Linked DNA regions of Homo sapiens: regions 1 and 2 are each linked to region 3. The links come from fine-mapping of genetic effects on gene expression. A gene starts in region 3. Each other region holds a variant in brackets. All regions are shown on one strand. Distances are between the middles of the regions.

Region 1 (11,049 bases), 310 kb before region 3:
TTGAACCTGGGAGGTGGAGGCTGCAGTGAGCCAAGATCATACCACTGTACTCCCGTGTGGGCGACAGAGCAAGACTCTGTCTCAAAAAAAAAAATGTATTTTTTGGTGTGGCATGGTGGCACACACCTGTAGTCCCAGCTACCCGGGAGGCTGAGGTGGGAGGATCACTTGAGCTGTAATCCTGCCACTGCACTCCAGCCTGGGTGACAGAGACCCTGTCAAAAAAAAAAAAGCAAGAAAGAAAAAAAAAAGAATTCTTTTTTTTGGGGGGTAGAAAAAAACTATTTTTTGTAGAAAACATAGACCATTTCCGGGCTATGTTGCCCAGGCTAGTCTCAAACTCCTAGAATCAAGCGATCCTCCCAAAGTGCTAGGATTGCAGGTGTGAGCCATTGTGCCCGGCATAATTCTAAATGTTTCTAATGTTTTAAATTACAGTGTGCTAAATAAATATTACTATTGCTTTTTCATTTCTATATATACTTATAACCAATAGCAATGTAGTTGCTTTAATGTCTGGCAAAACATTTCAAGGATCATGGAACAATCATAATTTTTCCCTTGATTATGTTAAGATTGTTTTGCATAGTTTCAGTGTGCACATTTTCACAATTCCACATAACATAAAATGAGGACTGCTGGTATATGATATGCAAATATTTCCTTCCAGTAGTTTATCTTCTGATCATCTTAACAGGGTATTTGACAAAACAAAACTTTTTAATTTTGGTGAAGTCCAATTTATCAATTTTTTTCTTTTATAAATCTTACATTTGGTGCCATGTCATAAGAACTCTTTACCTGGTCCTAGTTCCCAAAGATGTTCTATGTTTCATTCTAGAAGATTTTTTTTTTCTTTTTAGTTTCACATTTTACATTTAAATCTATGATCTATTTTGAATTAATTTTTTTTAAGGTATGAGGTTTAAGTGACAGCTCATTTTTTGCTTATGGATGCCCACTATTTGCTGAAAAGACTATTTGTCTTCCATTGAACTACTTTTGCACCTGTCAAAAATCAGTCAGTTGTATTAGTGTGGGTCTATTTCTAGGTTCTCTACTCTGTTCCATTGATCTATGATTCTTTCTCTCCACCAATACCACATTGTCTTGATTACTATAGCTACAGAGTAAGCCTTAAAATCAGGTGGTGTGTTTTCTTCCACTTATTCTTCTTTTTAAAATTCTAGCTATTCTAGTTCCTTCAACTTTCCATACAAACTTTAGAATAAGCTCATCTACAAAAAAATCCTGCTGAAATTTTGATAGGAATTGCACTAAACTTATACATTCAGAGAGAGTTAACATTTTTACTATGTTGAATGTTTCAATCCATGGACACAGTGTGTCACTCCATTTAATTAAGTCTTCTTTGATTTAACTCCATCATCATCTTTCACCCAACTTTTATACTTTTGAGCATATAGATCTTATATCTGTCTTGTTAGATTTATTCCTAAATATTTCATTTTTAGGGGAGCAACTGTAAATGGTACATATGTTTTTAATTTCAATTTCCAAATATTCTTTGTTAGTATATAGAAATACAATTGATTTGCATTGTCTGTATATCTTGTGACATTGCTGAACTCACTTATTAATTCTAGAAGACTTTTTTTTGGAGGCTCTTTGGGAGTTATACATGGACAACTGTGTCATCTGGAAAATGAGATAGTTTTATTTTTTCCTTGCCTTGCCTTACTGCATTGGCTATGACTGTGTTGAATGAGTGGTAAGAGTGAACATCCTTGGCTTGTTTCTGACCTCAGTGGCAAAGTATTCAGTCTTTCACTGTTAAGTATAATATTCCATGCAGACTTTTTGTAAATGCTTGTTATCAAGTAAGGTTTCTATTCCTAGATTTCTGAGTTATCATGAATGGGTACTGAATATGGTCAAATGCTCTTTGTGTATTAACTGACATAAGATGATGTGATTTTTCTTCTTTAGCCTACTGATATGTTGGGTTATACTGATTATTTTTTGTACACTGAACCAGCCTTGCATTCTGGTAATAAACTCCATGTGATTATATATAATGCATAATTCTTTTTACATATTGCTGGATTTGATTGGCTAAATTTTGGTGAGGATTTTTGTTTCCATGTTCGTGAGGAATGTTGCTATGTAGTTTATTTTGTACTCTGTCTGGTTCAGGTATTAGTGTGACACTGGCCTCATAAAGTAAGTTGGGAAGTGTTCCTCCCTCTTACATTTTCTGGAACAAACTGTGTAGAATTGACGCCAGTGGTTTTTAAATGTTTGGTTAATATCTCCAGTGAAACTATCTGAACCTGGAGACTTCCTTTATAGAAGGTTTTTCACTACAAATTCAAGTTTTTTTAATGGTTATAGGACTACTCGTATTATTTCATATTGGGTAAATTTGGATAATATGTGCTTATAAAACAGCTGGACTATTTCATGAAAGTTATCAAATTTATATGCATAGAGTTGTTCATAGTATTCTCTTACTGTATTTTCCTTTTAATTTCTGCAGGATCTGTAATGATATTCCTGGTTTCATTCTTGATACAGGTAATTTTTATCTTAGTGCTTTATGTGTTTGTCAGTCTTGTGGATTTTTTGTTTTTGTTTTTGTTTTGTTTTTTGTTTTTGAAACAGAGTCTCGTTCTGTTGCTCAGACTGGAGTGCAGTGGTGCAATCTTGGCTCACTGCAGCCTCTGTTTCCTGGGCTCAAGTGATTCTCCTGCCTCAGTCTCCCGAGTAGCTCGGACTACAAGCGTGCGCCACCATGCCTGGCTCATTTTTTTTACTTTTAGTAGAGAAGGGGTTTCACCATATTAGCCAGACTGGTCTCGAACTCCTGACCTCAGGTGATCTGCCCACCTCAGCCTCCCAAAGTGCTGGGATTATAGGCGTGAGCCACCGTGCCCAGCCATGTTTGTCAGTCTTGATAGAAGTTTATCACCTTTTGGTTTCACTGATTTTTCTCTACTGTTTTCATGTTTTCAATTTCATTGATTTCTGCTCTTTATTTCCTTCCTTCTGCTTGCTTTGAGCTTGTTTCGATCATCTTTTCCTAGTTTCTTGAAGTAGGACCTTCCATTATAGGTATGAGACCTTACTTCTTCTCTAATATAAGCAAATTTCCCTTCCAGCTTTAGTTGGATCCTGCAAATTTTGATAAAGTGCATTTTCATTTTTAATCAGTTCAATGTATCTTTTTTTTTTAACCTCCCCTGAGATTTCCTCTTTGACTTGACTGGAGATTTTCTTCCTATCTATGACTGGTTTCTAGTTTGATTCCATTATAATGAGAGAACATACTCTGCCTAATTTCAGTTCTTTTAAAACTGTTGAGATCTGTTTGATTACTCAGGATATACTCTATTTTGAGGAGTGTTTCATGGACACTTAAAAAGAATGTATATTCTGCTGTTGTAGAATGGAATGTTCCATAAATGTCAATTAAATTTTTCTGGTTGAAGGTGTTATTCAGCTCTTTAATACCCTTACTGATCCGCTGTCTAGTAGTTCTAGCAATTCTGAGAAAGGGATGTTGAAATCCCCAACTGTAATTGCGGATTTGTCTGTTTCTTTCTTTTAGTTCTGTTAGTTTTTGCTTCAGGTATTTTTATATACAAATAAAAGTGGTACATACACATTTAGAATTACTGTATATTTTAATGGACTGGCCCTTTTATCATTATGTAAATTGCTCTTGTTCCTAATAATTTCCTTTAATCTAAAGTCAACTTTGATATTAATATAGTAACTCCTGCTTTTTAATTAATATCTGTATGATATGCTTTCCATTCTTTTACTTTCAACCTACTGTCTTTATCATTATATTTGAATTTCTTGTAGAAAGCATATTTTTGAAATTCATTTAAAATTCATTATGAAAATCTGTTTAATTGGTATATTTAGACCAATTATAAAACATTTTACAATTATTATACATTTATGTTTTAAGGTAATATTTTTATATGTTAGAGCTTAAATACACCATTTTATTTATTTTTTTTGTTTCCTCCAGTTTTTGTTCCTGTTTCCCATTTCTCACCTTCCTGTGACAAACCAAGGTACATTTTATATAATTCCTTTTTGGATTACCTATGCTTTTGAGTGTAACTGTTTGTATAGTTTTTAATAATGATTGTTCTAAGTATTATAATATACATAAGTAACATCATAATCTACTGGTATCAATGTTTTATCACTTTGAGTGAAATGTAGAAACCTTACCTCCAATTATGTTTAATCCTTTCTTCCTCCTAATTGTCTTCAAAATTCCTCACTATACATTCAGAAACAGATCTTGTCATAATTTTTGCTTCAACTATCAAACAATTTTAAAAACTCAAAAACATATGCATGTGTGTCTTTATAACAGAACAATTTCTATTCCTTTAGGTATATACCCAGTAATGGGATTGCTGGGTCAAATGCTATTTCTGTCTTTAGGTCTTTGAGGAATTGCCACACTGTTTTCCACAATGTGGAATTAATTTACACTCCCACCAACAGTGTATAAGCATTCCTTTTTCTCTACAACCCTTGCCAGCATCTATTATTTTTTGACTTTTTAACAATAGCCATTATAGTTGGTGTGAGATGGTATCTCACTGTGGTTTTGATTTGCTTTTCTCTAATGATCAGTGATGTTGAGCTTTTTTTCATATGATTGTTGCCCACATGTATGTCTTCTTTTGAAAAGTGTCTATGTCCTTTGCCCACTTTTCTTTTAGTTGTCAAATGAACCTTTATTGAAATATTTTCCTTTGTGCTTAACTAGCTGGGCATTCCACTGCACCACTGTTGATGTCATCTATGATGTCATGAGGTGACGGCCATCAACACTGCAGCCCACAAACTGAGCAGTCCCCAGGATCTCTTTAATGGTTCTAGAGAGTTCTCTGGCTAAAGATTGGTGCCGCATCTGTCAAGTAATGTTGACAATCTCATCACAAGTGATATTTCCACTGTGTTTGATGTTTTTCCATTTCTTTCTGTCCCTTGGCAGTTCCTTGAGGGCTTTGACGATCAGGGCAGAGGCAGAAGGCACTGCCTCAATCAGGGCCTGTCTGTTCTGAATGGCCAGTTTCACTGTAATCCTCAGACCCCTCCAGTCACCGGCTGCCTTGGCAATGTCATCACCAACCTTTTTCGGAGACAGACCCAGGGGGCCAATCTTGGGGGCCAGTGCCAGATACCAGCAATGATACCTGTGCCAGCACAGACATGGCGCCCATTTCACCCTCCGTGCATCTCAGGTATACAACTTTTTTTTTTTTTTTTTTTTTTTTTGAGATGGACTCCTGCTCAGTCGCCAGGCTGGAGTGCAGCGGCGTGATCTTGGCTCACTGCAAGCTCCGCCTCCCAGGTTCACGCCATTCTCCTGCCTCAGCCTCCTGAGTAGCTGGGACTACAGGCGCCAACCGCCACGCCCGGCTAATTTTTTTTGTATTTTTAGTAGAGACGGGGTTTCACCATGTTAGCCAGAATGGTCTCTATCTTCTGACCCGTGATCCACCCGCCTTGGCCTCCCAAAGTGCTGGGATTACAGGCGAGAGCCACCACGCCCGGCCAGGCATACAACTTTGATGTCGCTGGGGTCAAACTTCAGCAGTTTGCCCAGTTTGTAATGGGGTTGTTTTTTTCTTGTAAATTTGTTCAAGTTTCTTACAGATGCTGGATATCAGACCTTTGTTGGATGCATAGTTTGCAAAAATTTTCTCCCATTCTGTAGGTTGTTTATTGATAGTTTCTTTTGCTGTGCAAAAGCTCTTTAGTTTAATTAGATCCCATTTGTTAATTTTTGCTTTTGTTGCAATTGGTTTTGGCATCTTCGTCATGAAATCTTTGCCCATGCCTATGTCCTGAATGGTATTGCCTAAGTTGTCTTCCAGGGTTTTCATAGTTTTAGGTTAAGTCTTTAATCCATCTTGAGTTCATTTTTGTATATGGTATAAGGAAAGGGTCCAGTTTCAATATTCCGTGTATGGCTAGCCAGTTATCCCAGCAACATTTATTGAATAGGGAATCCTTTCCCCATTGCTTGTTTTTGTCAGATTTGTCAAAATAGCAAACACATGGAATCAACCTAAATGCCCATCAAAGATAGACTGGGCAAAGACCATGGAATACTACGCAGCCATAAAAAAGAATGAGATCTATCCCTTCAAGAAACATGGATGGAGCTGGAGGCCATTATTCTTAACAAACTAATGCAGGAACAGAAAACCAAATACCACATGTTCTCTCTTATAAGTGGGAGTTAAATGATGATAACACACGGATACTTAGAGGGGAACAACACACACTGGGGCCTATTGGGTGGAGGATGGGAATAGGGAGGGGATCAGGAAAAATAACTGTTGGGTACTTGGGCTTAATACCTGGGTGATGAAATAATCTATACAACAAACCCCTATGACACAAGTTTATCTATATAACAAACCTGAACATGTACCCCTGAACTTAAAAGTTAAAAATTAGAAAATAAATAATAAAAACTCAAGAAGAAAAGGATAGGCTGCATTTTCCCTATTTTTTATTCATTACATTGTTCTTTCTTTATTCCTGATATTTCAAGTTTCTTTCTATTATTCTTTTTTCATTCTATTTGGAGAATATCCTTTAGTCATTCTTTCAGAGTAGGTCTGCTGGTGAGAAATTTTCTTAATTTTCCTCTCTCTAAAAGTGTCTTGACTTCCCTTTCACTCCTGAAATATATTCACGGCTATAAAATTCTGTGTGGACAGTTCATTTTTTCCCCCAGCAATTGAAAAATATTCCACATACTTCTGGCCTCTATGGTTTCAGATAAAAAATTCAATATCGCTCAATCATTGTTCCCCTATAGTTGTGTTATTTTTTCTAGTT[G/A]CTTTGAAGATTTTTCTGTCTTTAGTTTTCAGAAGTTTAACTGTGATGTATCTTGGTGTTGATTTCTTTGAGTTTATCCTGTCTGGAGTTCACCTGGATTCACTGGATTCACTTTATGAATCTGTGAGTTTATGCCTTTCACCACATTTGGGAATTTGTTAGCCCTTGTTTCTTGATTATTTTCTAGCCCCATATTCTTTCTACTCTCCATCTGGAATTCCAATGACACAAATGTTAGATCTTTTGTTACAGTTCCACAGGTCCCTAAAGCTCTGTTATTTTTTTTCTCCAATCTATCTTCTCTTTGTTGTTCAGACTGTGTAATTTTTATTTATCTGTCTTTAAGTTTACTGATTCTTTTCTCTGTCATCTCTGTTCTGCTACTGAGCCTATCTGGTGACTTTTAAAGTTTTAGTTATTATATTGTTCAGTTCTATAATTCCATTTGGTTCTTTTTTCTTATCTTCTGTTTCCTTGCTGAGACTTTGCTTCAAGGGTGCTCATAATTGCTTGCTGAAGCAATTTTATAATAGTTGTTTTAAAATTCTTGTTAGATGATTTCAACTTCTGAGTCATTTCAGTATTAGCATCTGTCTCAGTCTTCTCAGGCTGCTATAACAAAATATCATATACTGGGCAGCTTAAACAACATACATTTATTTCTCACAATTCTGGATGCTGGGGAAGTCCAAGATCAAGGAATGAGTCGACGTGGTTCCTGGTGAGGGTCCCCTTTCTGGCTTACAGATAATCACCTTCTAGCTGTGTCTTCACACGGTAGAGAGAGAGAGTACTGGTCTCTCTTATTCTTCTAAGGACATTAATCCCTCTTGAGCCTAACCCTCATGACCTCACCTAAATCTAATTACCTTCCAAAGGTCCCACCTCCAAACATCACATTGCAGGGTTAGGGCTTCAACTTATAAATTTGGGGGAGACACAAACATTCAATCCATAACAGCATCTGTTGATTGTCTAATTCAAGTTGTGATTGTCCTGGTTCTTGGTATGAAAAGTAATTTTTAATTATATCCTAGACATTTTGGGTATTAAGTTATGAAATTCCAGATCCTACTTCATCTTTTTCAGTAGGTAGACATCCTATTTAGGCTTAGTATACTGGTTCTGGCTTACTTGTGTGGGTTGTGGCTCCAACAACAATTTAGTTTTCAGAGCATTGTAGTGCTATTCTGGTCTGCTTCCTTTGTGTGCTACCCAGAGGCCAATCTAAAAACCTGGGCAGCATTCCACACTATAGTTCAGTTCCTAAACTTTTTGTTGTATTAATTCTGGTCAGTTTCTTGTATGGGTCACTGAACGGGTATGTCTAGGACTTCATATGCAAAATCCCTTTCTCTAGCTCTCCTCTCTCCCAAATCGTACCCCTACTCTCTAGTTGAGAAGGGAAACAACTTCACCTGCCACCACTGGATGCTGGCCACTGGGAGTGGAAGTCTAGGTTCCTCCCTGGGCCTCTACTGACACCACTTTGGCGGGAGAATCGAGCACTGTTTCACTGCTGCTGGCCTGAGGGTGGAAGTTCATACTTCTCACTTATTCCACTGGCCCCGCCCCAGAGAGGGAAGCAGAATGCTGCCTCACACTGTCTCACTGCCTCCAAGTTGGGGGTGGAAGTACAGACTCTTCATTCACCCCAACAGACACCATGTTATCAGGGAAAAGTAAAAAACCATGTTGGTGCTACCAGGCAGAGGACAGATATTCAAGTTCCCTGCTTAGCCTCTGCTGACACCACTCCAGCAGGATAAACAGCCTGCTACTGTCAGATGGGAGATGGAAAATCAGGGTGCACACTTGGTCTGTTGGTAATACACCAGCAGGGGAAGCAGAGAGTATCCATTGGGCAGAGGATGAAAAGTCAAGCTCTCTGCTCAGCTCCCACTGACACCATCTTGGTGGAGGAAGCAGAACACTGCCTTCTACCACTTTTTACTGCCTTCTACCACTTTTTGCTGCCAGGAGCAGACGTGAGTTCAGGCCGTCCACTTGGCTCCTGGCGACCCTGGTGGAGGAATCAGAGTACAGCTTGCTACTACCACCAAATAGCAGGCAGAAATCCAGACTCCCCACCTCAATGTCCACTGCACTGGCACTAAGTGGGGTGGGGAGATTTTCATTATCTTTGGCAGGAGTTGGACAGGTATTGTAAATAAGGTTTCTATCCTGTTAGGATGCCCTTTGCTCAATTCTTTGTCTAGAAATAGCAGGCTTTTCTTATAACTTTTTAAAATCTGCACCAGTTGACATTTTCAGGATGTGGGATTTGCCAACACTCAGTCTAAAATATATAGAGGACAAAAAGAAAATCCAAGGAACTCACTGATGTCATTCCCCAAGCTCCAAGGTCCCTAGCCAGTCTGCTGCCTTCTGACTGTGTTTTAGAGTCTTCCTACATTTGCCTTTAGTATTATGTCCAGGGTTTTTAGTTACCCTTAGCTGGGGGAATAGGGAGAAATAAGTCTATTACATCTTGCCAAGAATCAAAAGCTTAAAAAGGCCATATCTTAAAAAACAATAATTTGTAGAATACAGGTGAACAATAGCAGACATAATAAAACATAAAAGCATCAAGCAATTTGTATGGAAATAGAGGGATAAGTAGACGAGATTCAACCATAACAACCAAATCTGCTGGGAGAGACAGCTTTTCCAAGAACCAAGGAACTCCGGGAAAGACTGATTCACTTAAACCTACCAAGCTACCGATGGATACAATATAATTGATGTTCTCGTCCCCAAAAACATCCAGTTCCCAAAAACCCACTCATTTAATTAAGAGGATATGGCCGAATATCTGACAGTATTGTCTATATAAATCACAAAAGCACCATCCTGTACTAACAAGACACCACATAGGCTAGGTTTAAAGATTAATAAACAAAAATAGGATGATATCTGTAGCCAAAAGCTTGATATATGTAAGAAACTCCCCAACCAATTTCAAATCCATTTATTTGCCAATCCCAGTGCCAGCTCGATGAGCACATTGGCAGTGAGCTGAGTCAGTCCAGATAGGCTCCAAATGAAAAGCAGGAGAAGGATGCCAGGACTTAGCACCTCAGTGATGGTGCTAACAACCTAAGTTCCACATAAGTAAGGAAAGAGTATGATAGCCAGACCTCAGAGGTGTGCAGCTGGTGCAAATGAGCTGGAGCTTGGGTCTTGCATTTGGGTGCTGATATTGGGATCCCCTTGCAAGGGGAGAGGAGTATTTTTTCTTTTTTCTTTTTTCTTTTTTTTTTTTTTTTTGAGACAGAGTTTCTCTCTTGTCACCCAGGCTGGAGTGCAATGGTGCAATCTAGGCTCACTGCAACCTCCACCTCCCGGTTTCAAGTGATTCTCCCACCTCAGCCTCTGGACTATCTGGGACTACAGACACATACCATCATGCCCGGCTAATTTTTGCATTTTCAGTAGAGACGGGGTTTCACCATGTTGGCCAGGCTAGTCTCAAACTCCTGACCTCAGATGATCCACCCGCCTTGTCCTCCCAAAGTGCTGCACCCAGCCGAGAGGAGTATTTTTAATTACAAAAACCAGCAACTAAAACTTTTAAGTAATCTCTTGGTTATACATTTTGAAATACTTTTATAAATATTCATACTTTTCTACACTAATTGAATTACTGGGGTGGGGGGAAATGCCATCACCTGAGAAAAGAAAAGCCAAACACACTCCCAGGGAAAGCAAAGAGAAGAGAACAAGGTTAAGTGGGTCCTCCATCCACAGAGAAGACGCTGAATAGGAGCTGTTTAATGTTCCCATCAGTCCCACATGGAACCGACAGTGGGTGGGAAGGAGCCAAAGCCCTGGCCAGTCCCTGTCCTAGGCACCCAGGCACTCCTCTGCTGGCCTCACCTGTACCAGGCAGAAGATGTGCTTCTCCTCAGCCCCTTGGCTAATACATCTGTGGTAGGACACAATTGCGAGCATTGCCTTCCTTCACCCACTGCTGCTGCCACCAAGCCACGTGCCCTCCCACACCACATACACTCTCCGTGTAGGAGAAGTGACTTTGGTAAGATGAGTAAAGACGTGGAGACTGAGCCTGCATTTCACACTTCTTAAACAGGTAAACACCAGTTTCCTATCCCCCAAAAAGGTTCATTTTCCCAGAAATATTTAGTTCTAAAGGATCAGAACAACCTATGGCTTCTTCCAGTAATACACAAGCTG
Region 2 (11,049 bases), 120 kb before region 3:
GGCCTGTGAGAAACCGGGCCTCACAGCAGGAGGTAAGCAGCAGGTGAGCAAGCAAAGCTTCTTCTGTATTTACAGCCCCTCCCCAATTGCTCACATTACTGCCTGAGCTCCGCCTCTTGTCAGATCAGCTGCAGCATTAGATTCTCACAGGAGCACGAACCATATTGTGAACTGTGCATGTGAGGGATGTAGGTTGTGTGCTCTTTATAAGCATCTGACTAATGCCTGATGATCTGAGGGGGAACGGTTTCACCCTGAAACCATTGCTACCCCCCATACTGCCACCCTACTCCCCACATCCGTGGAAAAATTGTCTTCCATGAAACCATCCATGGAGCCAAAAAGGCTGGGGACCACTGGTATAGCCTACTACACACCTAGGCTATACAGTCTAGTCTATGCTCCTAGGCTACAAATCTGTACAGCGTGTTACTATACTGATTACTGTAGGCAATTGTAACACAATGGTAAGTATTTGCGTATCTAAACATATCTAAACAGAGGACCGGGCTCGGTGGCTCACACCTGTAATCCCAGCACTTTGGGAGACCAAGGCGGGCGGATCACCTGAGGTCAGGAACTCAAGACCAGCCTGGCCAACATGGTGAAACCCTGTCTCTACTAAAAATACAAAATTAGCCAGGTGTGGTGGCGCCTGCCTGTAATCCCAGTTACTCGGAGGCTGAGACAGGAAAATCACCTGAGCCCGGGAGGCGGAGGTTGCAGTGAGCCGAGATTACGCCACTTCACTCCAGTCTGGGTGACAGAGCGAGACTCCATCTCAAAAAAAAAAAACCAAAAATAAAAAAATTAGCCAGGCATGGTGGCACACACCTGTAATTGCAGCTACTCAGGAGGCTGAGGCACAAGAATCGCTTGAACCGGGGAGGGAGATGTTGCAGTGAGCCGAGATTGCGCCACTGCACTCCAGCCTGGGTGGCAGAGTGAGACTGTGTCTCAAAAAAAAAAAAATTAAAATTAAAAATATCTACACATAGAAAAGGTACAGTGAAACTATTGTAGTATAATCTTATGGAATGACCATCGCATATGTGATCCGTTATTGACCAAAACATCATTACATGGTGCATGACTGTAATTGAAAAGTCCACGGGTAACATGTTGACCTTCAAGCAGAGGTGGATTCGGAGCTCCAGCTTAACGTGATATACAGACTTTCAGTTCTAAAACCAGGAAAGTCCCAGGCAAACTGGGACAATTAATTACTGTAGCTCCAATGTGTAAACAGGTCTTGGTGTCTCCATTTCTTGGCTCTGCTTTCAGCTGAGTTGGATAATTCAGTCTCCGGATCTACACATAGCAAGACAGGACAGCAGCTCCAGACCCTATATTCTCTCAAGTTGGAGTCCTGAAAGAAAGGAACTAGTTTGCTTCCCTCATGACTCCAAAGAATTAGAGTGGGTCTTACTGGCTGTCATTAGTCTACTTGAGACATATGTCCACTGTTTTATTTTATCTGGTTTAGTTTTTTAAATTGAGATATAATTCACATTCCATAAAATTCATCTTTTTAAAGTATGCAATTCAGTAGTTTTTAATATATTCACAATGTTGTATGATTATCACCACTATCTAATTCCAAAACATTTCTATCACCCTAAAGAGAAACTCTAGGCCAAGTACAGTGGCTTACACCTGTAATCCCAGCATTTTGGGAGGCCAAGGCAGGCAGACAACTTGAGCCCAGGAGTTTGAGACCAGCCTGAACAACATAAGAAACCCCTTCCCTATAAAAAATACAAAAATTAGCTGGACATGGTGGCGAGTGCCTATGGTCCCAGCTACTCCAGAGGCTGAAGTGGGAGGAGTGCTTGAGCCTGGGAGGCAGAAATGGCAGTTAGCCACTGCACTCCACCCTGGGCGACAGAGCCAAACCCTGTCTCAAAAAAAAAAGAAACCCTATACTCAGTAACAGCCACTACCCATTCCCCCTCCTTCCAGTGCCTGGCTACCACTAATCTTTCTGTCTCCACAGGTTTGCCTATTCTAGATATTTCATATAAATTGAATCAAATAATATATGGCCTTTTGTGTCTGTCCTCTTTCGCTTAGCATAATGTTTATAAGGTTCATCCATGTTGTAACATGAATCAGTACTTTATTCCTTTTTATTGCTGAATAATAGCCCATTGTATGAATATAAAAAAGTTGTACATGAATGTTCATAGCAGCATTCTGATGCCAAGTGGTAGATAGTTGGGTTGCTTCCACTTTTTGACTATTATGAATAATGCTGCTATGAGCATTCATATACACTTGACCCTTGAACAACACAAGTTTGAATTGCAAGGATCCACTTATATGCAGATTTTTTTTACCAAATGCAAATTGAAAATACAGTATTCGCAGGATGTGAAACCTGAGTATATGGAGGGCTGACTTTTTGTATACTCAGGCTCTGCAGAGCCAACTGCAGGACTTGAGTTTGCATGGATTTTGGTGTACTTGGGCGTCTGGAACTAATCCTTTGCATACACTGAGTGTTGATCATACAAGGTTACCTAGAAGTGGAATTGCTGGATTGTACGGTAACTCTGTGTATGTCCCCATTCTTGAACCAATCACTGTGGCCTAAGAATAGAATGGTATGAATGATTTAAACCTAAGTCACAGGTTCTTTTTTGTTTGTTTGTTTGTTTGTTTTTTTGAGCCGGAGTCTCGCTCTGTCGCCCAGGCTGGAGTGCAGTGGCGCGATCTCTGCTCACTGCAAGCTCCGCCTCCCGGGTTCACGCCATTCTCCTGCTTCAGCCTCCCGAGTAGCTGGGACTACAGGCGCCCGCCACCGCGCCCGGCTAATTTTTTGTATTTTTAGTAGAGACGGGGTTTCATCGTGTTAGCCAGAATGGTCTCCATCTCCTGACCTCGTGATCCACCCGCCTCGGCCTCCCAACGTGCTGGAATTACAGGCGTGAGCCACCGCGCCCGGCCTTGTTTGTTTGTTTTTTAAAGACAGGGTCTCACTTTGTTGCTCAGGCTGGAGTGCAGTGGCACAATCTTGGCTCACTGCAACCTCTTCCTCCCAGGTTCAAGTGATTCTCATGCCTCAGCCACCTGAGTAGCTAGGATTACAGGCATGTACCACCACACCCAGCTAATTTTTGTATATTTAGTAGAGACAGGGTTTTGCCATGTTGGCCAGGCTAGTCTCAAACTTCTGGCCTCAAGTGATCCACCTGGCCCAGCTTCCCAAAGTGCTAGAATTACAGGTGTGAGCTACTGCACCCAGCTTACGCCACATGTTCTACTCCTGATGCTGAGGATGGAGTCAGTTTCATTAGGACCACATGGAATGAAAAGAAAATGATGGTTCACCAGGAAGAAATGGGGTACAGTTATCAGATGGAGGATGAATGGAATCTAGGCAGCAAATCTACAGATGGTCATTGCAAATTGCCATATTAATTGAATGCTCACTATGAGCCCGGCACTGTGTTAAGTACATGCATTATCTCATGTGACCTTTACGACAGCCTCATAAGGATTCTATTATTCTATTACTCCCCTACAGATGCAGAAACTGAGCTCAGAAAAGTTGAATAAGTTGTCCAAGTTTATATAGCTGAAAATTGAGTGTTTGAACCCAGGTCTGATGCAAAGTGTCAGAGAAAAACAGATCTTGAGTTAGGCTAAAATATACCTGCTAAAGCGTCTTTTGCATCATTTGCCCAATATTTTTATAATCATTGGGGAAGAGTCTGTGTAACCACAAATTTCCTTTCACACCAAGGACAAGGAAGAACAGGTTTTTATCAAGAAAAAAATCATAGTTGACATTTTTTCCCTTTAGATTTCCAAGTAAGCTTCCCAATTTTGTCAGATATCACATTATTGGCATTGAGATTAAGCAGCTATATTTCTCAGAAAGTCTCCATGCTTTTTGTCACCACTCATCTTTTTCTAACAGGCCTAGAAATTCAGCTAAATTCTGCTTGTCATGTGATTAGGAAGTGCAGAACTCCACACCATGCTCATAACCTCCTCCAGAAATGATTTACAAGAGCTCTTCTGTAGTCCTCATGATGAGGGCCTGGGGCTAGGGATCTCTGACTCCCTACTCTCTACTCCTGTGGACCAGAACCCCAATGATGTGAGATGGATGGGACAGAAGATGTGAGGCAACCAAAGAGTTGAAGAATATAAGAAGTTGCATTTCATTGCCACCACCCGCCACCAATTCCGAAATGTCAGTCCTTAGAGCATCACAGGAGAATAACCTCATATTAAACTGTATACTGTATTAAGCTTCATACTAAGCTGCAAGCGTTAGCACCACACCGACTCCTCCTTGAGAGACCCCATCCCACTACCCCTCCTCCCTAGTACACACACATCACCATCAAAGCAACTTGCATCCCAAACCCTTGAAAGATTTACTGCCAGTACTGCAGACAAATCAGTGAATACCCGGCAGTCGATTCCAAAGACAGGATGCTCATTTGCATGAGGAGTTGCATGTCATTTGCATTATATTTGCAATCCATTTGCATATCACGTCTGCCCTGTCAAAATGTACATAAATGCTTTATACTTTCACTTTTTTTATTTTCTAAAGAGGACTACGCCCCCGCATCCTGCCCAGACTGTCTGGGAAAATTACTGGTTGAGTATTCCCAGCTTAATTGTGAAGAGCCTCACGTGCCATACTGAGGCGATTTCAAACTGTGGAAGAGCCCCAAGGATGTCAGAACCTAGCTTGAGAAACTTCATTCATTCATTTATTCAACATGTCTTTATTGAACACTTACGATGTGCACTGTTGTTCTAGGTGCTGCAGATATATCTGTAAATAATGAGATGAAAATAGTTGCAGCATTAAAAGTTAAATGCTGTCATTTCAGAAAATCACTTGGCACCAACCCAATCAATACATAATACAAGTGCAAAAAAAAAAAGGCACTAAAATTTCCTGAAAGTGCTTGGTTATAAGGTCATCCGGTGTTACAGACTATGCTTATGTCGTTATTACTATTTTGTTAAGATTAATCCTGGCCGGGCATGGTGACTCAGCCTGTAATCCCAGCGCTTTGGGAGGCCAAGGTGGGAAGATTACTTGGGCTCAGAAGTTCGAGACCAGCCTAGGCAACATGGCAAAACCACGTCTCTACAAAAAATACAAAAATTAGCCAGGTGTGGCTGTGCCTGTAGTCCCAGCTACTCTGGAGACTGAGGCAGGAGGATCACTTGAGCAGGGGAGGTCAAGGCTGCAGTGAGCCATGATCCTGCTACTGCATTCCTGCCTAGGCAACAGGGCAAGACCCTGTCTCAAAAAAAAAAACAAAACAAAAGATTAATCCTGAAATTAAAACAAATAGTAAGCTCCTTATTTTTTTCTTTTCTTTTCTTTTTAAAATAGAAACAGGGCCTCACTATGTTGCCCAGGCTGGTGTCAAACTCCTGGGCTCAAGTGATCCTCCCACCTCGGCCTCCCAAAGTGTTGGGATTACAGGCGTGAGCCATTGTGTCCAGCCAGTAAACTTCTTAAAGTTTACTCAAGACACCTGAGAATGTGTCCCCAAGGGATCCAGGAACTCCAAGTTTGAGAAACACCAATTAAGGATCCATTAAACAATTTAAATAGGGAAATAGCCTGGGTTTACATCTTAGATCACTCTGCAGCCATGTGGAGGGAGCATTGGAAGGGGTGGAAGGCCAGAGGCAGATAAACCAGTAAAAGGCTTCAATAATCTAGGTGTGACTCAGATGTGGGACTGTCCACACTGTCAGCCTCATAAATCCTGTGGCCCCTTCACTGATGTCCATCTGAAATCAAGTCACACCACACACTGGATGGCTTCAGAAGTTTTCAGTGAAAATTTGTACAGTCATGGGGGGTTCATAACATACATTGTTTCAATCGAAAATTCAGCTTTGAGGCAGTCGCAGTGGTTCATGCCTGTAAGCCCAGCACTTTGGGAGACTGAGGCAGGCGGATCACTTGAGGTCAGGAGTTCGAGACAAGCCTGGCCAACATGATGAAACCCTGTCTCTACAATAGGACAATATGAGGGGTGGTCTCCTCCCTTACAGGGAGGCAGAGGTTGCAGTGAGCCAAGATCACGCCACTGCACTCCAGCCTGGGCAACAGAGTGAGACTCCAACTCAAAAAAAAAAAAAAGAAAGAAACACGGTTAGAATGGATTGCCTGGTTTAGATGCTCAGAGGTGCCCAGACAGAGTCTGGTTCAAAACCCAGGGTGATACCAACACATAAAGAGAAGAAGGGTAGTGAAGGGAAGCCCAAGGGGAGGACATGATGAGCGGGGTAGAAGGTATAGCAGAAACCAAGAGAAGAGTTTCAAGAAAGAAGGAGCCAGCAATATAAAACTCCACAGAGAGGTCCAGTATGAGGAAAACTGGAGAGAAGTCATTGGATCTAGCAATTAATGTGACTTTCTAAGAACAGTTTTGATGAGGTCTCATGTGAGACACTCTTTTTTTTTTTTTTTTTTTTTTTGAGAC[A/G]GAGTCTCACTCTGTCGCCCAGGCTGGAGAGTGCAGTGGGGAGATCTCGGCTCACTGCAAGCTTGCCTCCTGGGTTCATGCCATTCTCCTGCTTCAGCCTCCTGAGTAGCTGAGACTACGGGTGCCCGCCACCATGTCTGGCTAATTTTTTGTATTTTTTAGGAGAGACGGGGTTTCATGGTGTTAGCCAGGATGGTCTCAATCTCCTGACCTCATGACCCACCCGCCTTGGTCTCCCAAAGTGCTGGGATTACAGGCGTGAGCCACCATGCCCAGCCAGAGACACTGTCGATTACCAACCCAAAAGCCATTTTCCCACTCTTCTTCCTTACTTGCCAAGACCAGCTCGGTTGTGGAGACCATAACCCAGCAGCACTAGAGGAATTAAAGACACACACACAGAAATATAGCGTGTGGAGCTGGGCACGGTGGCTCACGCCTGTAATCCCAGCACTTTGGGAGGCCAAGGTGGGTGGATCACGAGGTCAGGAGATTGAGACCATCCTGGTTAACATGGTGAAACCCTGTCTCTACTAAAAATACAAAAATTAGCCAGGCGTGGTGGCAGGCACCTGTAGTCCAGCTACTCAGGAGGCTGAGGCAGGAGAATGGTGTGAACCCAGGAGGTGGAGCTTGCAGTGAGCTGAGATCACACCACTGCACTCCAGCCTGGGCGAAAGTGCGAGACTCCATCTCAAAAAAAAAAAAAAAAAAAAAGAAAAAGAAATATAGCGTGTGGAGTGGGAAACCAGCGGTCTCACAGCCTTCAGAGCTGAGATCCTCAAACAGAGATTTACCCACATATTTATTGACAGCGATCCAGTGATAAGCATTGTTTCTGTAGATTGTAGATTAACTAAAATATTCCTTACGGGAAATGAAGGGATGGGCCGAAATAAAGGGATGGGCTCTGGCTAGTTATCTGCAGCAGGAACATGTCCTTAAGGCACAGATCGTTCATGCTATTGTTTGTGGTTTAAAAACACCTTAAGTGGTTTTCTGTCCTGGGTGGGCCAGGTGTTCCTTGCCCTCATTCTGGTAAACCCACAACCTTCCAGTGTGGGTGTCATGGCCATCACGAGCATATCACAGTGCTACAGAGATTTTGTTTATGGCCGGTTTGGGGGCCAGTTTATGGCCAGATTTGGGGGCCTGTTCCCAACACTTACTGGCAGGGACTGCCTCACATTATAAGGCCTCAAAACTGCTAGATACTTTGCCAACACCCCTCCCCCCACCTCCTTTAAACCTAGGGGTGGACATGTGACCCAGTTCTGGATAATGGAACTTAGGAGGAAGTTTTCTGGAAGATTCTGCAAAGGATTTTCCTCCCTAATGCAATAAATATGCTTAGGGAGAAATCTTTAATTCCTTCTTTTTTTTCTTTTTTTGAGATGGAGTCTCCCTCTGTCACCCAGGCTGGAGTCCAGTGGCATGATCTTGACTCACTGCAACCTCTACCTCCCAGGTTCAAGTGATTCTCATGCCTCAGCCTCCCAAGTAGCTGGGATTACAGGCATGCACCATGATACCCAGCTAATTTTTGTATTTTTAGTAGAGACGGGGTTTCACCATGTTGGCCAGGCTGGTCTCAAACTCCTGACCTCAAGTGATCTGCCCGCCTCAGTCTCCCAACTGTGCTGGGATTACAGGCGTGAGACACCATTGCTGGCCATCCCTTGCTTTTTTCTGCCTTGGGAGTTGCCACGTGAGCTCATGCTATTCAGAGCTGTGACAGCCATCTTAGGACTATGAGAAATAAGCCCAAGAATGGAGCAAATACTTTGAGGACAGTGAAGAGGAAAATGAGAAAAGCCTGGCTATTTGATGACATTACTAATGGCTGAATTAACCAAACCTGGACCCACCTATCTCTGGGTTTCTTGTTATATGAGATAAATAAATGTCCTTACTACTTAATTCACTGTTGGTCAATTATTCCATTATTTACAACCACAATACATGGTGGCCAGAATTAGTTATTGAGGAAGGAACGAAAAACAAGAAAGTAAAGATACTAAGATATTCTCCAGTGGTTTCTAAATGCCAGTCAAAAAACCACCTGCATTAAAATCACATGGGGCTAGGCGCAATGGTGATAAGTTTACATGCCTGTAATGCTAACACTGAGAGGGTGAGGCAGGAGGATTGCTTGAATCCAGGGGTTCGAGACCAGCCTGAGCAAAAAAGGGAGACCCTGTCTCTACAAAAAATAAATAAAAATTTAAAAAACTTAGCCAGGTGTGTTGGCGTGTGCCTGTGGTCCCAGCTACCTGGGAGGCTGAGATGGAAGGATCACTTGAGCCCAGGAAGTTGAGGCTGCAGTGAGCCGTGATCGCGCCATTGCACTCCAGCCTGGGCAACAGAGCAAGACCATGTGTCAAAAAAAAAAAAAAAGAAAAATTACATGGGAGCTTCTTTATGTCCTTTATTCTGATAATATTCTGATTCAGTAAATTCAGCACAGAGCCCAGGGATCTTCCTCTTTAATAAGGGCCTTAACCAGTACACCATTTTGGAAAATCATTGTCACTTTTTTTTGTTTGTTTGTTTGAGACAGAGAATCTCGCTCTGTCACCCAGGCTGGAGTGCAATGGTGCAGTCTCGGCTCACTGCAACCTCCGCCTCCCGGGTTCAAACGATTCTCCTGCCTCAGCCTCCCAAGTAGCTGGGACTACAGGCGCCTGCCACCACACCCAGCTAATTTTTTTGTTGTATTTTTAGTAGAAACGAGGTTTCATTATGTTGGCCAGGCTGGTCTCAAAATCCTGACCTCGTGATCCCCCTGCCTCGGCCTCCCAAAGTGCTGGGATTACAGGCCATGAGCCACCGTGCCCAGACTTTGTTTTTTGGGTTTGTTTGTTTTTTTTTAATTTTTTTTTTAGATGGAGTCTCGCTCTTGTTGCCCAGACTGGAGTGCAATGGCACGATCTCCACCTCCCAGGTTCAAGTGATTCTCCTGCCTCAGCCTCCCGAGTAGCTGGGATTACAGGCACCTGCCACCATGCCCAGCTTTTTATTTATTTATTTATTTATTTATTTATTTATTTTATTTTTATTTTTAGTAGAGAGGGGGTTTCACCATGTTGGCCAGGCTGGTCTTCAGCTCCTGACCTCAGGTGATCCACCTGTTTTGGCCTCCCAAAGTGCTGGGATTACAGGCATGAGCCACCATGCCCAGCCTTTTGTTACTTTTTTTTTTTTTTTTTGAGACAGGGTTTTGCTTTGTTGCCTGGACTGCAGTGTAGTGATTCAATCATAGCTTACTGCTGTCTTGAACTCCTGGGTTTAAGCAATTATCCCACTTTAACCTCCCGAGTAGCTAGGACTACAGGTACACACAACCATGTTCAGGTAATTTAAGAAAAAAACTTTTTTTTTTTTTGTAAAGATGGCAGTCTCACTCTGTTGTCTCACTGTGATGGAGACTCTGAGTCTCCAACTCCTGGCCTCAAGTGATCCTCCCACCTCGGCCTCCCAAAGGGCTGGGATTACAGGTGTGAGCCACTGCATCCAGCCTCACTTTCTTATAAAACTAAACTTACACCTATCCTATGAAGGGCAAATCCACTCTTAGATATTTTACCCAAGAAAAATAAAAACATATGTCCACAAAAAGACATGCATGAGAATGTCCATAACAACTTTTTAAAAATATAGATAGGAGTCTTGCTTTGATGCACATGCTGGTCTCAAACACCTGGCTTCAAGCAATCCTCCCACTTCAGCCTCTCAAGGTGCAGGGATTACAGGTGTGAGCCACCCTGTCCAGCCCATAGCAACTTTATTTACAACAGCTAAAACTGGACACAACCTCAAATGATCGTAACAGGAGGACAAAACAAATTGTACACAGGGGACAATCTATTATAAGGATTACCAGCCAGATGTGGTGGCTCATGCCTGTAATCCCAGCAGTTAGGAAGTCTGAGGCAGGAGGATCATTTGAGGCCATGAGCCTGAGACCAGCCCTGACTCTACAAAAAAAATTTTAAATAGACAGGTGTGGTGGCACACAACTGTAGTCCTAGCTACTCAGGAGGCTGAGGTGAGAGGATTGGTTGAGCCCAAGAGTTCAAGGCTGCAGTGAGCTATGATTGTGCCACTGCACTCATTTGAGCAACAGAGCAAGACCCTGTCTCTTAAAAACAAAACAAAACAAAACAAAAAGCCAGGCACAGTGGCTCACATCTGTAATCCCAACACTTTGGGAGGCCGAGGCAGGCAGATCCCGAGGGCAAGAGATCGAGACCATCCTGGCTAACATGGTGAAACACTGTCTCTACTAAAAATACAAAAATTAGCTGGATGTGGTGGCGGGCGCCTGTAGTCCCAGCTACTCAGGAGGCTGAGGCAGGAGAATCGTTTGAGCCTGGGAGGCAAAGGTTGCAGTGAGCCGAGATCTCACCACTGCACTCTGGTCTGGCGACAGAGCGGGACTCCGTCTCAAAAAAAAAAAGAAAGAAAGAAAATTAGAAAGGTACAGAGAGATTAGCATGGTCCCTGAGCAAGGATGACAGCAAATTTGTGAAGCATTCTATATTTTTAAGAAAAGATTACTAAGTAGCAT
Region 3 (11,049 bases):
CTGTCTTTGATTAGGACAAAATGCTTTTCAAGTTTCACTCCTTGCCCCTGCCTATCAAAAACAGGACCAATTTCAGTTGGCTCAACTTTGACAGGGTTGTTAAATCAGAAGTAGCGGCTTCTCATTGGCCATTTGGCTTTTGAGATTTAAATGGAAGAGTTTGTTTTCGTACATAATAGGAAAATTCGAAACATCACAGAGCAATTAGATCCCAGCTACTTTCGTAACTACCAACTCTACTTATATTGACTTCCTGCCTTTTTTTTTTTTTTTCTTTGAGATGGGGTCTGGCAATGAATGACACAATCATAGTTCACTGCAGCCTCGAACTCCTGGACTCAAGTGATTCACCTACCTCCACCTCTCAAGTAGCTAGGGCTACAGCCATGCACTGCCATGCCCAGCTAATTTTTGTAGGGGGTGTGTGTGTGTCTGTGTGTAGAAGATGCGGTCTTGCTATGTTGCTCAGGCTGGTCTCAAATCCATGGGCTCAAGAGATGCCCCTACCTTGGCCTCCCAATGCGCTGGGATTATAGGCATAAGTCATCATGCCTGGCACTTTTTACTTTTTTTCCTACACTTGCATAAACCCTAGTTTGTTGGTGGTGGTTTTGTTTTTAGTTTGTTTTTGAGAGGGGTTCTCGCTCTGACACCCAGGCTGGGGTGCAATGCCGTGATAGCCCACTGCAACCTCCGCCTCCCAGTTTTGAGTGACTCTCCTGCCTCAGCCTCCCCAGTAGCTGTGACTACAGGTGTGCAACCACACCTGGCTAATTTTTATTTTTGTACTTTTAGAAGAGACAGGGGTCTCATCATGTTGGCCAGGCTGGTCTCAAACTGACAAGTGATTCGCCCACCTCGGCCTCCCAAAGTGCTAGGATTACAGGCGCGAGCCAGTGTACCTGGCCCACCCCCACCTTTTTTTTTAGAGACAGCGTCACCGCCTTACCAGGTTGGGGTGCAGTGGCACACTAGTAGCTCATGGCAGCCTTGAACTCCTGGGCTCAAGCAAGCCTCCTGCCTCAGCCTACGAGTAACTGGGACTTATAAGAATGTGCCACCACACTTAGCTATTTTTTTACATTCTTTCTGAACACAGAGTTTTGGTAAGTTTCCCAGGCTGGTTTTGAACTCCTGGCCTCAAGCATTCCTTCTGCCTCGGCCTCCCAAAGTGCTGGGATTATAGGTGTGAGCCACAGAACCCAGCCTATGCCCTATTTGAATAGGGAAACCTGCTTTATGGTGTGATAGCCTGTGGAAAGGGACTGCAGTTTAAGTGATGATTGGTGTGAAGGATAGTGAGACTTTCATGATAACTCCTAGTTCATTTTCCTGATTTTGGCTGCTTCTGCTGAAACTCCAAGTGTATCTCTGGCCCATGTTATTTTAAAAGGCAAGCTTCTAGAGAGGTGAACATGGGGAGAACATGGAAACAACAACAAAAAAAGCTGAGCTGCTCCTGGCTAACATGGTGAAACCCCGTCTCTACTAAAAATACAAAAAAATTAGACGGGCGTAAAAAAAAGACTCCGTCTCAAAAAAAAAAAAAAAAAGGCTGAGCTGCACAAAGTCAGCAGGGAACGGTTTTCCCAGCTGGAAAAGAGGAATTGCTTCTGCCTTTCCAGTTATTCAGCACGTCTGTAGGCACACATGATGATTCTGCAAAAACGTTTACCTATTCTACACCTACACATTTTCCAAATCCTGCTCATGCTGCATATTCAAACTACACAAGTTTGGCTCTTTTTTTTTTTTTTTTTTTTTTTTTTTTGAGACGGAGTCTTTCTCTGTCGCCCAGGTTGGAGTGCAGTGGCGCGATCTCGGCTCACTGCAAGCTCCGCCTCCCGGGTTCACGCCATTCTCCTGCCTCAGCCTCCCGAGTATCTGGGACTACAGGCGCCCGCCACCACGCCCGGCTAATTTTTTGTATTTTTAGTAGAAACTGGGTTTCACTGTATTAGCCAGGATGGTCTCGATCTTCTGACCTCGTGATCCACCCACCTCGGCCTCCCAAAGTGCTGGGATTACAGGCATGAGCCACCGCGCCCACCCGAAGAATATTTTACTTTTTTTTTTTTTTTTGAGACGGAGTCTTGCTCTGTCACCCAGGCTGGAGTGCAGTGGCGAGATCTCAGCTCACTGCAACCTCTGCCTCCTAGATTCAAGCGATTCTCCTGCCTCAGCCTCCTGAGTAGCTAAGGTAACAGGTGCATGCCACCACACCTGGCTAATTTTTTGTATTTTTAGTAGAAACTGGGTTTCACTGTATTAGCCAGGATGGTCTCAATCTCTTGACCTCGTGATCCACCTGCCTCGGCCTCCCAAAGTGCTGAGATTACAAGCGTGAGCCACCGCGCCTGGCCAAGTTTGGCTCTTTAAGGCCAGGTGAGTTTTAAACTTCACTAAACAACTTTTTTAGGAAAACCCACCACTTACTGTCTGTGTATCCTTAGTGCCTAGATCAGTGCAGGCATAAGTAGGCATTTTAAAAGTTGAATAATACTTGATCCCCTCACCTTCTCATTCAGAGCAGGGACCTTTGCTTACCCTGCAGTGTTAGGCCCTTACTCAACCCTACATACCTACGCTAGCTAGCTACATTCTCTGCCTACCTTGATACAAAGGAGCATAGGAACCATTACTGAAGCACTATAGGAACCTATGTAAGAGTTCATTTTGGGGGGGTGTGTTTTCTTGTTTATAAATGCAATATGCAATTCAAGCTTTCCTAGAGAATTTAGACAATATTTTTAAAATTCAGAAAATATTGACTCCTTTGAAATCTGACCACCAGGAAGGCCGGGCACGGTGGCTCACGCATGTAATCCCAGCACCTTGGGGGGCCGAGGCAGGCGGATCACGAGGTCAGGAGTTCAAGCCTTGCCAACATGGTGAAACCCCGTCTCTACTAAAAATACAAAAATTAGCTGGGCATGGTGGTGCGCGCCTGCAGTCTCAGCTACTTGGGAGGCTGAGGCAGGAGAATCACTTGAACTGGGACCTGGGAAGCAGAGATTGCAGTGAGCCGAGATCGTGCCACTGCACTCCAGCCTGGCCTACAGAGCGAGACTCCATCTCAAAAAAAAAAAAAAAAAAAAAAAAAAAAAAAGAAATCTGACCACCCAGAAATACTGCTATTAACATTTTGATGACCATTCTATCAGATACTTGGCATTTATACCTACTCGTGCCTGTTTACATATAAAATTTTGAAAGATTTTACAAACATGCTGTTTTGCAACCTGCTCTTTTAAAAAGCATTGATATATTCTATATCAATGAATATACATATTTTAAATAACTATTTTAATGCATCATTATTCATTTAACCAATTTCCTGTTGATAGGCATTTTGATCTTTTGGGTTTTATAACCAGGCTATAAATATTCTTACATGTCTCTCTTTACATCTGTCCATTTGGGTAGATTCCTATATTTGGAATGTTTGGGTAAGAAGGTACATACTTTTTACATTATTGATGAGAAATGAGGGGTCTGTAGGAAGGTGGTAATTTACAGTGGGGGCCTACTCATAGCCATCCTGGGCCTTCTGATTTCTACTTCAACCTCCATCTTAAGATGGTTACTATGTGAACCAGATAGGTAAATTTTTGCAGTGTTTTAAAACTGGATCTCTCTGTTGGTCCCATTGCAGTGTCTCTCCTTACCATTAGCAAACTTGTTAGCCTTCATTATTTTGTTTTCCATGTATAGATCATCACCATCACTATCCAAGTATAATATTGCTACATTGAAGTTTATTTTGCATGTGAGCAGAGTGTCCTTATGTCTAGAGAATGCCAAGGAAATACTGGGCCCCTGACGCTTAGCCACTGTGGTGAACTCTCAGTGCGATCTGGAAATTGAGATCTTAACCCCTTTGTGTGGGAAAAACAGCATTGGCCTTTGAGTGTTTCACATGATTTATCAAATATTTTTTATTACCATTATAACCAGTTAAGTGGCTTGTGTTACTAAATAACAAATTCAATTATCTCATGTTTACCTTTTTGTTTATTTGTTTGTTTTAAGACAGAGTCTCACTCTGTCACCCAGGCTGGAATGCAATGGCATGCTCTGGGCTCACCGCAACCTCCTCCTCCCGGGTTCAAGCGATTCTCCTGCCTCAGCCTCGCGGGTAGCTGAGACTACAGGCATGTGCCACCACATCCGGCTAATTTTTGTATTTTTATTAGAGATAGGGTTTCACCATGTTGGCCAGGCTGGTCTCAAACTCCTGACCTCATGATCTGCCCGCCTCAGCCTCCCAAAGTGCTGGGATTACAGGTGTGAGCCACCGCACCTGGCCTCATGCTTACCTTTTAAGAGAGTCTGGGTTAGGCCAGGCCCTGTGGCTCACGGCTGTAATCCCAGCACCTTGGGAAGCTGAAGCGGGCAGATCATTTGAGCCCAGGAGTTCAAGACCAGCCTGGGCAATATGGCAAAACCTCATTTCTACAAAAAATTCAAAAATTAGCCAGGCATGGTGGTACACACCTGTGGTCTCAGCTACTTTGCAAGCTGAGGTTTGAGGATTGCTTGAGCCAGGGAGGTTGCGGCTGTAGTGAACCGTGATCATGCCACTGCACTCCAGCCTGGGTGATGGAAGACTGTGTCTTAAAAAGAGAGTCTGAGTCATCTCAGACTATATAAATACCTATTTTGTTATGTTCAGACTTCCTTCAGCCTCAGATTGATAGCTTATCTTCACAGTTTAGAATATAGATCTGTAAGTGCTGCCAAGGTGGTTGACCCAGGAGCTAGGGCAGAACCATCTGCATTCATTTCTTTGGGGCTTTGGACTGGCCCAGAAGAGTATTCAGTGAATGAAATAGCTCTGAAGAGGAACAACCCGGTTTCTAAATTCAAGCCTTCCCATGGAGGGAATTTTTTGTCTTAGTAAATACTACAAGCATATAGTTTTTAAAAGATTCAAATTTTTCAGGAGAAAAGGATAGTTATTTGCACCCATTTCCTAGTCGGTCATTTGCCCTCTCCAAAGGGAAGAAATTAGTTTGTGTCCCTTTTTCAAAGATAGTATCTACACATTTGAACATCCAGATTTGTAAAACACATACTCTCGGCCGGGTGCGGTGGCTCACACCTGTAATCCTAGCACTTTGAGAGGCGGAGGCGGGTGGATCACGAGGTCAGGAGATCGAGACCATCCTGGCCAACACGGTGAAACCCCTATCTCTACTAAAAGTACAAAAATTGGCCGGGTGTGCTGGCGTGCGCCTGTAGTCCCAGCTACTTGGGAGGCTGTGGCAGGAGAATCTCTTGAACCCGGGAGGCGGAGGTTGCAGTGAGCCGAGATGGCGCCACTGCACTCCAGCCTGGGCAAGAGAGCCAGACTCCGCCTCAAAAAAACAAAACAAAACAAAAAAACAAAAACATACTCTCTTCTTTACATTGCTTAGTGTCACTAGAAATATATCTTGGGGCTTGTCAACGATGACAGGAAGGAAGCATGGGTAAGAATAACTATGGGGCCAGTGCACCCAGGATCACGGACTACAAAATTCTTGAACCCGGAGGTCACACTTTTCTATCCTGTGTGGACAGGGCATTTCCTCCTTTAGCCACAAAGAAGTTGCACATGTATTTGTATTTTGCGTTTGCATCCAGCTTCAAAAAGTGTGTTTTTGTGCCTGCACATGTCTGAGTGCGGATGTTTGCATATCATTTAGTACGCCTCTGTGATTTCCCTTAGTTTATTATTTTTCTGTGTCAGGATCTTGACGTGACTCGGTGCATGTCGCTGTTTGTGTGACATTGTGTATCATTCTTGGGGTGTGTATGGGTATGTGTGTGCTATGTCATTACCTAAATATTACGTTTTTGGGGGGGTGTGTGATGTCTGTGAAAGTCCACGCCTGTGTATCTTGTCAGGGTGCTCTTCAGTCCCCAGCTGCCTCACTCATTGCATATCATCATTCTCGGAAGATGGGCGGGTGTGGGAACAGTGGTACGCCCCCATTCCTGCCTTCCAGAGAGAACGTGCGACAGCGTTCCTGCTACACCCGGCAGCCGGCCGTAGGGGCGCGCTGGAAAGGCTGCTGCGCGTGCACACGTGTGCAGCCTTGGAGACAGACTTCGGGGTCGCGCGTTCTCGCGCGCGCTCTCTAGTGGCTTCGGAGGGCAGAGCTGACAGAACAAGAGGGCGGGGTTGGCGGCGACGGAAGTGAAGTCACTTCCGGGCTGGGGTGTTTGTTTGGACTGGAGAAGGGAGGCGGCGGGCGAAGCGCACGTCGAGCGGGGGAGCGGCGCTGCCTGTGGAGATCCGCGGAGGCCGACAGGATTCGTTGGCTGCCGTCCCCGCTGCTGTGCATTGGGTGAGGGGTCCTCTCGGGCAGAGTGGCGACAGGGGTGCGGAGGTCGAGGGACAGCAAGTCGGCGACGGCAGAGGGGCCTAAAGGGTTCCCTGGGTGGTTGGCCACCGAGTCCATTGCGGCCTCCGTTGTTCATTGCCTCTTTCCACCAAGTCTGAGGGATGAGCTTGGGCCGACTTCGTCTCTGTCTTCTCCGAGACATGGCCGTCGCTTTTTTTTCATTGTCATTATTAATGATTTGGATCTCGCAGCTCTCTATCCGGGTCCTCAGTGGCGCGAGGGTTGCCGGGATAGCACTTTCTCCTGTTCCTCATTCTCCCGGTCCTTTATCCCTCCGCCGGGTACCCTTTCCCCTGCCCCCCTCCCACCGCCTCGGCAACAAAGCTTATTGTTTCTACCCACTTTACGCCTGCGCGTCGCCACGCGCAGCCCCTACTTGCTGCGCGTGCGCGCCTCAGCCGAGGCTGGGGTTTGGGGAGAGAGGGGCGGAGGGACTGGCGGGCTCTTGGCGTCTTGGGGGAACGCTGCAACCGTCGACGGGCCTGATCAGAAGATCGTCTTTCTCCCGTTTCTTCGCCATCGCTACCCCTTATTTTTGGTTGTATTGCAGCTCATGCCCTGGAAAAAAGAACCTTTGGGGTACTGGGAACCCTTACCCTAGGAGGGCGTTGAGTTAGATGAACTTTAAGGTCCTCTTACCTTTTAATAATTTTCTGTGCTTACTCTCCTCCTTCCCCACCATCGCCACCAGAAATAAATAAGGCTTGTGGTGAACTTAGGTCTTCAAAACATTTGTTGCAGCAGCCAGCAGTGATATTTTTTAGGGACTCCTAAAAGGGGTCTTACCTGCTTCCTTTTGTTTCTTTTTTCCCTGATTTGGCACCCGTATCAACTCATAAAAACCCCAAACTCTAGAAAGAATTTGGCTTCCAATTTGCCTTGGAAGGTGTAGCAGCTGACAGCCTTTGACGTTTATTTCAACGGAAAGTAGATGTTCATGTTGGGTGTGCTGGCTAATGTTGAAACGTGGTGGCATTGTTTTTTCACAGATTTCATTAGCACAGTTAGATCAGGTGTTGGTTTATATTTTCATTAAGTCGCTTTTGAAATTTCTTCTGGCGTAGGTTGTGTTTGCAATAAGTAAAAGTTCTCTACAATAATTTTTAATGAGACTCCACTATTTGCTTTTGTGATTCTGTTTCCAGTTAGTGAAAGACAGGATATTTGGGGAAAATTAGTCTGTTTATACTACTTGTCAGTTGTGAACTTGAATAAAACTTTTTCACACACACACAAAATCACAGGATAGGTAACTTGACAAGAACTATAGAACCCACTTGTGTTTCTTTAAGGGATGGAGGTTAGGGAATGGAGATTTCCTCTAATGATTCAAGGCTGTGCACGTTGCTCCTTAGGAACTCAAATTGAGGTAGGTAATTTCACCCTCTTTTGGTCAGAATGAGTTTATAGCAGGCTTTTCCTTAAATAAGCACTCTGCACTTTATTCAGGTTTATCACTTTATGACTCTAGAGTGTGATGCTCCAGTTTTAGTGAAAAACTTGAACACTTAGCACAGCAATTTGGTTGATACTGTGGGAGATTAAAGAATGTGGAAGGCAAGACCTCTGCCCCCTTGTAATCTAATAACCTTTTGTGCTTTTAAAACATTTTCTTGTAATTTACATCCTATTGTCATTCATTATCATGAAACGTGAAATGGGCAGAGCAAGTTTTTTTTTTTTTTTTTTTTTGAGATGGAGTCTCACTCTGTCGCCAGGCTGGAGTGCTGGAGTGCAGTGGCGCAATTGGCTCACTGCAACCTCCGCCTCCCCGGGTTCAAGCGATTCTCCTGCCTCCGCCTCCCTAGTAGCTGGGACTACAGGCGCTTGCCACCACGCCGGCTAATTTTTTGTATTTTTAGTAGAGACAGGGTTTCACCGTGTTAGCCAGGATGGTCTCGATCTCCTGACTTTGTGATCCGCCCCCGTCGGCCTCCCAACAGAGCAAGTTTTATCTTGCCCATTTGGGAATTAAAGAAATAGAAGCCTGAAAGATTATTTTTATTTAGCAAATATTTATATAACAATAATGCCAGGCATTGTTCTCATTGCCTTTACAAATATTAACTAATTTGATCCACAACATAGCTAGAAGGTAGGCCCTACTGTAAAATGAAGATAACAAATGAGACGTGAAGTAACTTTCCCAATGTCACAGAGCTATGATAGTCGGAATTCAAATCCAGATAGTCCAGAGATTCTATGCTCTTAACCATTATGTGGTGCTGTGTGATTTAGTGACAGGTCTAGGGTACTTTAAGGTGGCTATGTAGCATAGCTGGGATTTGAACCTACGTCTTCTGACTGTGGTCTAAGATTAAAGTTGTCCAAGTCATTGCCTTTGTGATCTAGACCACCTGTTGCACAGGTGCATGAATAGTTTGCATTTGATATAGGCTAAGGTTCAGTTCCAAAAAACTCCCTTTTTTCTTAATTTTTTCATTGTTTAGAGTGGTGCTGTCCAATGATGTAGGTACTGTGTGTGGTTATGAGCACTTGAGATGTGGCTAGTGTAAATGAAGAACTAAATTTTAATTAAATAGATCTGTGTAGCCGATGGCCACCATATTGGATGGGCACACGTTTGGAGAATTTGAATAGCCTCTGCTTCTTATATCAGTTTGTATAAATTTGGGTGGCATTTCTAATGTACTTGAGCTTTTATCAGTTAGGATGACCCATTCTTGCTCTCACCTAATTACCCTTGTTACACTACAGTTGAGATTAGGGTAGACTTTGGGATTTTCTTGTGACATTGTTTCACCTCTGTAGATTTAAGATCTCTAATTTTTACCTTGTCCCTTGGTCTAGAGACCTTTAACTGCCCTAAATATTTAATCACCGAGATAGTTAATGCCAATTGTTATGTGCTAGGTTCTCTAACTAGGTACTATTATTAATTCCCATGCAACAGATGAGGAAACCGAGACTCAGGTTAAGTAACTTGCCATGGTCACACAGTTAGTAAAGCAGCCTGGTTCCAGAGCCCATGGGTTTTTGTTGTTGTTGTTGTTGTTGTTGTTTTTGAAACGGAGTCTTGCTCTGTTGCCCAGGCTGGAGTGCAGTGGCGCGATCTCGGCTCACTGCACGCTCCACCTCCAGGGTTCATGCCATTCTTCTGCCTCAGCCTCCTGAGTAGCTGCACCCGACACCACACCTGGCTACTTTTGTTTTTGTATTTTTAATAGAGACGGGGTTTCACCGTGTTAGCCAGGATGGTCTCGATCTCCTGACCTCGTGATCCAACGGCCTTGGCCTCCCAAAGTGCTGGGATTACAGGTGTGAGCCACCGCGCCCAGCCCAGAGCCCATGTTTTTTAATCGTTACCTTACTGTGCCAAATAGTAAAACAAAAAATTCGGTGCTTTTCACAGACTTCAGAGTGGAAAACAGACCAATTGAAAAATGTTGCGATCCTCTTTAACTGCCAAAGGAAGTATGCTTAAACGTATATATGCGTAAAATACGATTAAAAAATATGCAAATAAGGTAAGGATCACAGTGGTTCAAAACAGAGTCCAAGGGAATGAGAAAAGATGGTGCCTATGGAGGTAGATTAATGAAAGAAACAGAAGAGAACTATGCTTGAATTTTTTTTTTTTTTTTTTTGAAACGGAGTCTTGCTCTGTTGCCCAGGCCTGAGTGCAGTGGCATGATCTCATTTCACTGCAAGCTCCACCTCCCGGGTTCATGCCATTCTCTTGCCTCAGCCTCCTGAGTAGCTGGGACTACAGACGCTTGCCACCATGCCTGGCTAATTTTTTGTATTTTTAGGAGAGATGGGGTTTCACCGTGTTAGCCAGGATGGTCTCAATCTCCTGACCTTGTGATCCGCCCACCTCGGCCTCCCAAAGTGCTGGGATTACAGGCGTGAGCCACCGCACCAGGCCTATATTTGAATTTTAATGAGAATTCTTAAAAGATGAAACTAGTGGAGAAAGATTGTAAAACCTAAAAGATTTCTGTATTTTAAAATTCCATAGACAATATAAAAGGACACTGCTGGAAACCAATATGTCTAAGAGGCATTTCAGGAGGGGAAAAACAGCTGAAGACACAATAAAGCCCTAAGTTGATAAATTGAAAGGGTTTGCTGACTTCCAGGCAGTAGTACTGGGAAAAAATTGCTCTTACCTATCCAAAATCTGGTGAAATATATGAATTTGTTAAAACATCTTAAGCTGTCGTCTAGAACAGGATTTTTAAATTTTTATTTATTTTTTTGAGACGGAGATTTGCTCTGTCACCAGGCCGGAGTGCAGTGGCGCAATCTTGGCTCACTGCAACCTCCGCCTCCCAGGTTCCAGTGATTCTCCTGCCTCAGCCTCCCCAGTAGCTGGGACTACAAGCATGTGCCACCACGCCCAGCTAATGTTTGTATTTTTAGAGACGGGGTTTCACCATGTTGGCCAGGATGGTCTCAATCTCTTGACCTCATGATCCACCCCCTTGGCCTCCCAAAGTGTTGGGATTACAGGCGTGAGCCACCGCACCTGGCCTATTTTTATTTTTTGAGATGCAGTCTCCCTCTGATGCTCAGGTTGGAATGCAGTGGCACCATCTCAGCTCACTGCAACCTCTGCCTCCCAGGTTCAAGCAATTCTCCTGCCTCAGCCTCCCGAGTAGCTGGGACTACAAGCGTGCACCTCCATGTCCAG

The links.
Region 1: its variant is fine-mapped to the expression of PAIP2 in whole blood (INTERVAL, PIP above 0.99).
Region 2: its variant is fine-mapped to the expression of PAIP2 in whole blood (INTERVAL, PIP above 0.99).

Annotation. Positions count from the first base shown.
Region 1 is chr5:139,030,394-139,041,442 of GRCh38, forward strand. All of the region lies in intron 5 of SIL1 (SIL1 nucleotide exchange factor), which reads right to left. It also overlaps the pseudogene RPL12P21. Among named protein-coding and RNA genes, the nearest start is that of LRRTM2, 160 kb to the left of the region's middle. The variant G/A (reference allele first, on the strand shown) is at 6,853.
Region 2 is chr5:139,210,812-139,221,860 of GRCh38, forward strand. It overlaps the pseudogene RNU6-572P. Among named protein-coding and RNA genes, the nearest start is that of SIL1, 18 kb to the left of the region's middle. The variant A/G (reference allele first, on the strand shown) is at 6,480.
Region 3 is chr5:139,335,646-139,346,694 of GRCh38, forward strand. It overlaps PAIP2 (poly(A) binding protein interacting protein 2), which reads left to right and starts at 6,209. Exons shown (of 4, transcript NM_016480.5): 1 at 6,209-6,335.